Homo sapiens: one gene and its partner. The protein of the gene in region 1 purifies or fractionates together with the protein of each later gene. This does not show direct contact. Each region holds a gene or a part of one and is shown on either strand. Other genes may lie near its edges.

Region 1 (3,914 bases):
AGGCTGAGGCAGGAGGATCGCTTGAACCCAGGAGGTGGAGGTTCAGTGAGCCGAGATTGTGCCACTGCATTCCAGCCTGGGCAATAGAGTGAGACCCTGTCTCAATAAATAAATAAATAAATAATATAATAAAATAAAATGGATGAGATGAATATGAAATTATGAAATGCAATTTTTAATTCATCTTATTTACTAAATAATTTTGCAAATTCGAGAAGAATATTATGAGAAAGAAAGGAATGGGGAAAGAGTCAATTAGTTGGCTGATTTCACTAGCTAAAGAAGTTGAACAGACATAAAAATTGTGTAGTTAACTGAAGTCTCCCATATATTTTCAGCCAGGACATGAAAAGCATAATGAATTTATTTTCTATTGTTAAGTAGTTCAGAATTGTCTTTTCTGGCAGTATTATTTCTCTGTGTGTGGATGGTAGAACAGGATGGACAGAAGTATTAAATGAGAGATTGGAAGTGGAGGGACAGTCCTTCAGTTTAAACACTATCTTTTGAGTCTTATGTAAATTTATATTTCTTTTAAAATTTGATATTTATATTTAATTTTATATTCTTTTTTCCACTTGTATAATATCCACATTGGGAAATTCTCTGCTGAAGATTTGCATATTTGAGGAGCAAAGAGTGGGATTTGGAATATAGGGAGGGTTGAAGCTAAGTTTTTACTCTCTGTATATATTTGATTAGTGTACATTTTTAAAAATGAGAAGGCATGTAAAATTTATATTTTGCCGGGTGTGGTGGCTCACGCCTTTAATCCCAGCACACTGGGAGGCCGAGGTGGGTGGATCACCTGAGGTGAAGAGTTTGAGGCCAGCCTGACCAATATGGTGAAACCTCGTCTCTACTAAAATTACAAAAATGAGCCAGGTGTAGTGGCGTGCGCCTGTAGTCTCAGCTACTCGGGAGGCTGAGGCAGGAGATCACTTGAACCTGGGAGGCGGAGGTCACAGTGAGCCGAGATTGCACCACTGCACTCCAACCTGGGCAACAGAGCGAGACTTCATCTCAAAAAAAAAAAAAAAAATTATATTTTACACACATATTTTAGGAGGATTTCTTTGCAGTTTAAAGTTTTAAGACGTGGAGCGGTTTATATATACATATATATTTTGTTTTCACATATATATTTTAAAGGATTATTAAAAAACAAGCTTGGCTTTGGCTTTTATGTAAATTATTTAGATTGAATTTTGTAGCTAAAATTACATTGGTGAAAGCTAAGTCTGCACGTATTACTTTGAAAGCCTCTTTTAGCTTATGTCAGTTTATTGAACAGAATTATTATAAACTATATTATATTTTACATACATAAATAGAAAACCTGGCAACTTACTAATGTAACTTTTAAGTATCAGGTTTTGGGGGCTATCTCTTCCTTTTACTAAGGTTAGCTTTTACTAATTTTCTATCCTGAATTTAAAATTTTTTTTTTTTACTTACAGTGGTTGGTTCAGCACGTGCACGGCCCAGTCAATTTCCTGAACAGTCTTCCTCTGCACAACAGAATGGTAGTGTTTCAGATATATCTCCAGTTCAAGCTGCAAAAAAGGAATTTGGACCCCCTTGTATGTAAATTATGTATCAAGGATTTAGTCATTTTAGGCATACATGTATTCTCTCTTGGTCATCCTTTTAAGTCCTCAAAGAGTAAACACTCTAAATACAAGCTTGATTGCAGATTTCATTTTACCACTGTGGAAAATTTAACTTCTTCTTATTAGTCTGTTAATTGGGTTTTTTAAAGTATATTTTGGAGCAAAAATTTTTTTGTGAAATTATAGCAATGTTTCAGTTTGAGTTTAAAATTCTGGGCAGATGATAATTTGTCAGATGTTACAGAAGAATGTGTTGGGCTCCTTGATTCTTTGAATTAAAAAGTCTGTGTTTCTAAACCAAGAGATGACATGTATCAATATGTTTGAGTCATTTTTCTGGACTCTCATCTGTACATTGTCCTATTTTAGTTTTGGTAAAGCAGCTCATTAAGTAAAGCTCACGTAGTTGTTATAGGCATGCTTTGTCACTGTGTACCTTTTATGTGTGTGTGGTGAAGTTATACATAAAAAAAGTTTAATATTAGTACTCTAAAAAAGAAAACTATACTTCTACAGCTCATCTTTTCTTTTCAGCACGTAGAAAATCTAATTGTGTGAAAGAAGTAGAAAAACTGCAAGAAAAACGAGAGAAAAGGAGATTGCAACAGCAAGAACTTAGAGAAAAAAGAGCCCAGGTTCGTAACATAAACATATATTTTGTTTATGTACCAACCAGAGATTAGATTATATCAGTGAAGGTGATTGATGTGAACAAAATAATTAAGGCATTTTTTTTGAAGAATTTTAAGAATTCCTTAAATTGATATTGAGGAATAATATAAACTCTTGTGCAAATAAGTTACCGTAACACATTTTTACTGCATTGTTCTTTTCATGTTTTATTGGTATGTGTTAACGCTAAAATTTGTTCCATTAAGAAAAAGCCATTGTGTTACAGAATTCTAATGTGTATGGTGTAACATTTAAGAATTTTTATTTTAAAAAGACCTAAAAATACATTGGGAAAAATACCCAGTTAAAGTGCATGATTAAACTATAAATTTTATTATTGTTTTTCTATGGTTAGTAAGTTCACATGTCTTAGTGAAAGGGGGGAAATTCCTTGGATTTTCATTTATGCCACATATGAAGAGTGGATCTCTATTGTGTCCCCCTCAGGGTCCCTTCAGATGGTAGCAAGACTGTTTAATAGCAGTGGGAAAATTGCATAGAAAACTGGTCTTTTACTCTTCTACAGGTCTTTACATATTAGACATTTTGTTATTATACATAACTGCACCATTGTGCTTGTATGGCATCTATTACATTTTCAGAACTACTTTTCTCTAATAAAACATCAAGATTATTTATTTAATAGTATGTTCAAATGCCCTTAATCATGTTAAACTACCAGTTCAGATGTTGTGTTGTGGAATTGTGGACCTAGTATTATATCCAACCTGAATGAATCAGCTTTTATCTGAAAGTGACCTGAGAATGACCAGTTGGGTTTTGAAATGAATAATAAAACATATTATCTACTAATACTTAGCATAGATGCCACCTGGTGTTTCCTGTGGGTACTTCATAATACTTACACATCTCTCTGTGATCTCTTAATTCTCACTTCACAGTCTGCTTCTCAGTTGACATAGGTGGTATTATTTCCTAGAAGAAGGTTAATTGAAAGTAAGTTTCAGTAACAGTTTGTAATTTAGTTGCATTCAAAACAAATCTGAATATGATGTATAAAAAAATGTGACTTCTTAGAATGATTAATAATTTATTGTTCAAGGCTAGGAAAGACTGTTGACTATTGCTATTTGTATCTTAATCTGAATTTCTGTTTTGAAGCCAAATAAATTGTAGTTGGCATTCAAAAATTTGAATTTTAAAGTTTTTTTAAAATGATCTTGGCTTCTGATTCCTTTAAGTTCTATGTTCTGTTGATTTGGGGCAGTTTTGTCATTACTTAGTATTTTTTAGAAGGTCAGCAAAAATAGAAAATGAAGACAAATGAATCTGTATTTATACTTTGCTGAAACACTGGATTAAATTAGAAGATGAATCTGATTAAATGAATTTTCCTAGAATTTCAGCTTTTCTAGAGTTATTTGCCAGTGGTAACATGAGCATTATTTCTCTGTTGCTGCATTTTATAGGATAATTAAGGTATATGTATAACAGATGGATTTTTGAAATAGGTGAAGGGTAACTTCAATGAAGAGTCCTTAATTTGGAGTTAACAGAATGCATACCGACTAAGAGAATTGTGTTTGTAAAACACAATTTTACAAACACAAAGTGGTTCAGAGCTTATTATGAAACCACAACTGTGAAACTATATAATATCGTCAGTTT
Region 2 (3,914 bases), on another chromosome or scaffold:
TAGGGGCCTGAACGCCTGTGTCTATGCCCCTTCCACTGGGCTCAACCTTCAACCCAGTGTGGAAAGTGGGGCATGGGCCGCCCACCTCCAAGGTCTACCCAGCCTCAAAGGTCCGGCTCGGGTCTGCTCCTCCGCCTGTAGGCCGGGAAGTCACTTGGCCTGCAGGGAGCACTGCGGGTAGGGAGGCCGAGGAATGGACCAGGCCCACAGCAGGTGCCTGTGGGGCTCCAAGGGGCCAGGCTCCCCGCAGCTCTCCTGGGGCCAGGAGGGGAGCAGGGACCTGGCTGGGTGTCTGATGCCCGTCGCACAGCCAGAGCCCTTAAAGCTGCTGGAGCCTTGCAGCGGGGCCTTTGCGGGGAGGGGGTGTAGCTGCGGTGGGTGGCACGGGGGTCTCCTAGGTACTGGGCAGAGGCCCTCGAGGTGGTAGCGCCGGTGGGAAAGGTAGGGATGGGAGGCGGGGGTGGGCGGGCCTCAGGTTCAGGGAGCTTCTCAGATCTGAGGCGCCCATGCCCCTCTCCCACCTGTGGGCCTCTCCAGCCCGAGTCCCTGAAGCAGCTCTGGAGGGAATTTCTTTTCTGGAGGAGGCGGGAGTGAGAAACGGGAGCAGGGTGAGGGTTCCCAAGTGCACATCGGCCCGTCCGCTGCTGGGTGGTGTCCACGGGGGCAGGGCTGGGCTGGGGGAGGCCAGGGTCCTGGGCCGGCACACCCTCCTTCCGGCTGCCTGTGTCCCTCCCTCCAGCTGCCTGTGTCCATCCCTCCGGCCGCCTGTGTCCCTCCCTCCGGCCCCTAAGCGCCAACTCATCTTCAGTTCAGGGACCTCCGTCAGGCTCCCTCACCCCAGCACTCAGCAGGAGGCTGCCGGCCTGGGTGTCCAGGGGATGGTGCGGGTGTCCAGCAGACAGTACAGGGGTTTGGGGGATGGTACAGGTGTCTGGGGGATGGCGTGGGTGTCCAGCAGATGGCGCAGGGGTTTGGGGGATGGCACAGGTGTCTGGGGGACAATGCGGGGGTTTGGGGGATGGCGTGGGTTCCAGGGGATGGTGCAGGGGCTTGGGGGATGGTGTGGGTTCCAGGGGACGGTGTGGGGGTTTGGGGATGGCGCGGGTTCCAGGGGACGGTGTGGGGGTTTGGGGATGGCGCGGGTTCCAGGGGATGGTGTGGGGGTTTGGGGATGGCGTGGGTTCCAGGGGACGGTGCGGGGGTTTGGGGATGGCGTGGGTTCCAGGGGACGGTGCGGGGGCTTGGGGGATGGTGTGGGTTCCAGGGGACGGTGTGGGGGTTTGGGGATGGCGTGGGTTCCAGGGGATGGTGCAGGGGCTTGGGGGATGGCGTGGGTTCCAGGGGATGGTGCGGGGGCTTGGGGGATGGTGTGGGTTCCAGGGGACGGTGTGGGGGTTTGGGGATGGCGCGGGTTCCAGGGGATGGTGTGGGGGTTTGGGGATGGCGTGGGTTCCAGGGGACGGTGTGGGGGTTTGGGGATGGCGCGGGTTCCAGGGGACGGGGCGGGGGCTTGGGGGATGGTGTGGGTTCCAGGGGACGGTGTGGGGGTTTGGGGATGGCGTGGGTTCCAGGGGACGGTGTGGGGGTTTGGGGATGGCGCGGGTTCCAGGGGACGGTGTGGGGGTTTGGGGATGGCGCGGGTTCCAGGGGACGGGGCGGGGGCTTGGGGGATGGTGTGGGTTCCAGGGGACGGGGCGGGGATTTGGGGGATGGCGTGGGTTCCAGGGGACGGTGTGGGGGTTTGGGGATGGCGCGGGTTCCAGGGGACGGGGCGGGGATTTGGGGGATGGTGTGGGTTCCAGGGGACGGTGTGGGGGTTTGGGGATGGCGCGGGTTCCAGGGGACGGGGCGGGGATTTGGGGGATGGCGTGGGTTCCAGGGGACGGTGCCTCATCCTCCAGTCTCTGTCTCTGCCTTCCCATGGCCACCTCCATGTGACTGTGTTCAAATTCCCCACCTCGTATAAGGACCCTTGTCACTGCGATTAAGGACCCCCTACTCCAGGGTGGCCTCATCTTAACTCATTATATCTGCAAAGACCCTATTTCTAGAAAAATTGCAGTCACAGGTACTGGGAGTCAGGACTTGAACCTGTCTTTTGTGGGGACACAATTCACCCATAATAGATGGTCACCCGCTCAGCTGGCTGCTGTGATTTTGGGGGGCTGGACGAGCAGGCCTTCTGTCTAGGAAATCAAACCTTTCTTGTATAATGGGAATAAACTAATTAAAATGCACACAAAGATCTCGTTCACATTAGCAAAAAGAACTCTCTCCAGATATCTAGGAGAAAACCCAGGAAAACACGTGTGAGCTCTTTACGGGGAAGACGGGAAGGCCTGAGAGACGTGTGTGCGTGGAGAGGGTGTCGGGTCCACAGAGGGGAAGACCCAGTGCGTGTGCACGTTGGCCCCATGAATCCGCAGCTTCATGCAGTGGTAGGTCAGTTTCATGGTGGCAAGATTCACCTTCAGACGCCACAAGGTCCTGGGGAAGAAGAGGTCCTGTCTCCCGACAAGGGCGGGAAGCAGTCCCAGGAGCCACCAGAGGCCTTGTCTTGCTGCTGACTGGCAGAAATGGCCAGGTTGGCCACGCCTGACTCAGACCAGGCTCGCCCCAGGGCTGGGTGGGAGTCAGTGTCCCTGAGCAGTGAGCCCTGAGCAGCACTGTGGGTCTCAAAGCATGGAAGGAGTGGGTGCTGGAGAGGCAAGCCAGCCAGCCCACGCCTGGGAGCCCACCCAGGGGACAGCCACAGGTAGCTGCAAATAATCTTGTCCGGGTGGAGACCCAGGCATTCCCACATGGCCACGGGGAAGAGTGGGGGTTGGGAGGCCATGGTGAGAGGGAGGGACACGTGAGGATCATGTGGGCAGGACCCCAACACCACAAGGGTGGGGTGGGCTGAGGCATGAAACTGGATCTCCCTAGAGTGAAATGTAAGCTCCAGCACGCTGGCACCACTGACGACACAGGAGCCATCAAAGTCCAGAAGGGGCCCCGCTGGGCACGCCCCACTCTTTCGCCATGGCTGGTGCTGGGCAGGGCCGCGGGGCTGCAGTCTGGGTGCAAGGCTCAGAGTCATTTCTCTGTGGATAGGGAGGGCACGGGTGTGCGTTCGCTTCGAGAACCATTCCCAAAGTCAGACCGCAGCCTCTGCACCAACCATCGGGGGCCAGTGGCCGCCCCCAGAGCCTCAGGGACCCTGTCCTTTGAGCCCACGCCTAAACCCACATGGGAATGATTTGGAGGCGTGGGTGAGTTGGATGGGAAAAAAATTGGGAGGGGCAAGGGGGGGATCCAGAATGAAATCCAGAAGCGCAGAAGGAAGGCTGTGAGGAGCAGTGGGCCGCCTCCTGCAGGGCTCCCGGAGCCCCTACTTGTCCAGGCTGCCTGGTGAGACCCTGGCTTCTGGTGTCCTTGGCAGGTGCCAGCCTCCCCCGCTGACCCCCATCACGAGTCAGCAGCTTACCCCACCGACCACGTCCTTCTGCATTGACTGCCTCCTGTCCTGCTCTGGCCAGGCCTGTGTTCACACTAGTTCTGTCCAGCCCCTCCCTGTGAGGCCAGCTCCAGCCCCAGCGCATGGTGACCATCCCGTTACCCATGGGCAGGATGCACTCCTCTCAGTGGCTGGCGAGGCGCAGCCTGGTGCGGGCGCCACGGGGTCGGGCTGTGATCGCCTGTGGCCTCCCTGCAGGGCTGTGACTCCCTGACGCAGATCCAGTGCGGCCAGCTGCAGAGCCGCAGGGCCCAGATTCACCAGCAGATTGACAAGGAGCTGCAGATGCGGACGGGCGCTGAGAACCTCTACAGGTCAGTGCTTGAGACTGCCCGGCCCCGGGAGCAGGGCCCACCTGGGTGAGGGGGGCAGGACAGCCACGCAGGCAGATGTCTGCCCCATGGCCGGGTCACAG

Evidence for each region.
Region 2: the proteins of KIF2A (region 1) and RHPN1 purify together in Homo sapiens (affinity purification with mass spectrometry; 2 studies listed by BioGRID and IntAct, with this or other methods). This does not show direct contact.

What each region holds. Positions count from the first base shown.
Region 1 is NC_000005.10:62,351,128-62,355,041, forward strand, and holds part of KIF2A (kinesin-like protein KIF2A), read left to right. Parts: intron 1-1,460; coding exon 1,461-1,583; intron 1,584-2,147; coding exon 2,148-2,248; intron 2,249-3,914. UniProt on the Homo sapiens protein: Plus end-directed microtubule-dependent motor required for normal brain development. May regulate microtubule dynamics during axonal growth. Required for normal progression through mitosis. Required for normal congress of chromosomes at the metaphase plate.
Region 2 is NC_000008.11:143,371,856-143,375,769, forward strand, and holds part of RHPN1 (rhophilin-1), read left to right. Parts: intron 1-1,876; exon of another isoform or gene 1,877-2,279; coding exon of another isoform or gene 2,280-2,438; exon of another isoform or gene 2,439-2,442; intron 2,443-3,697; coding exon 3,698-3,813; intron 3,814-3,914. UniProt on the Homo sapiens protein: Has no enzymatic activity. May serve as a target for Rho, and interact with some cytoskeletal component upon Rho binding or relay a Rho signal to other molecules.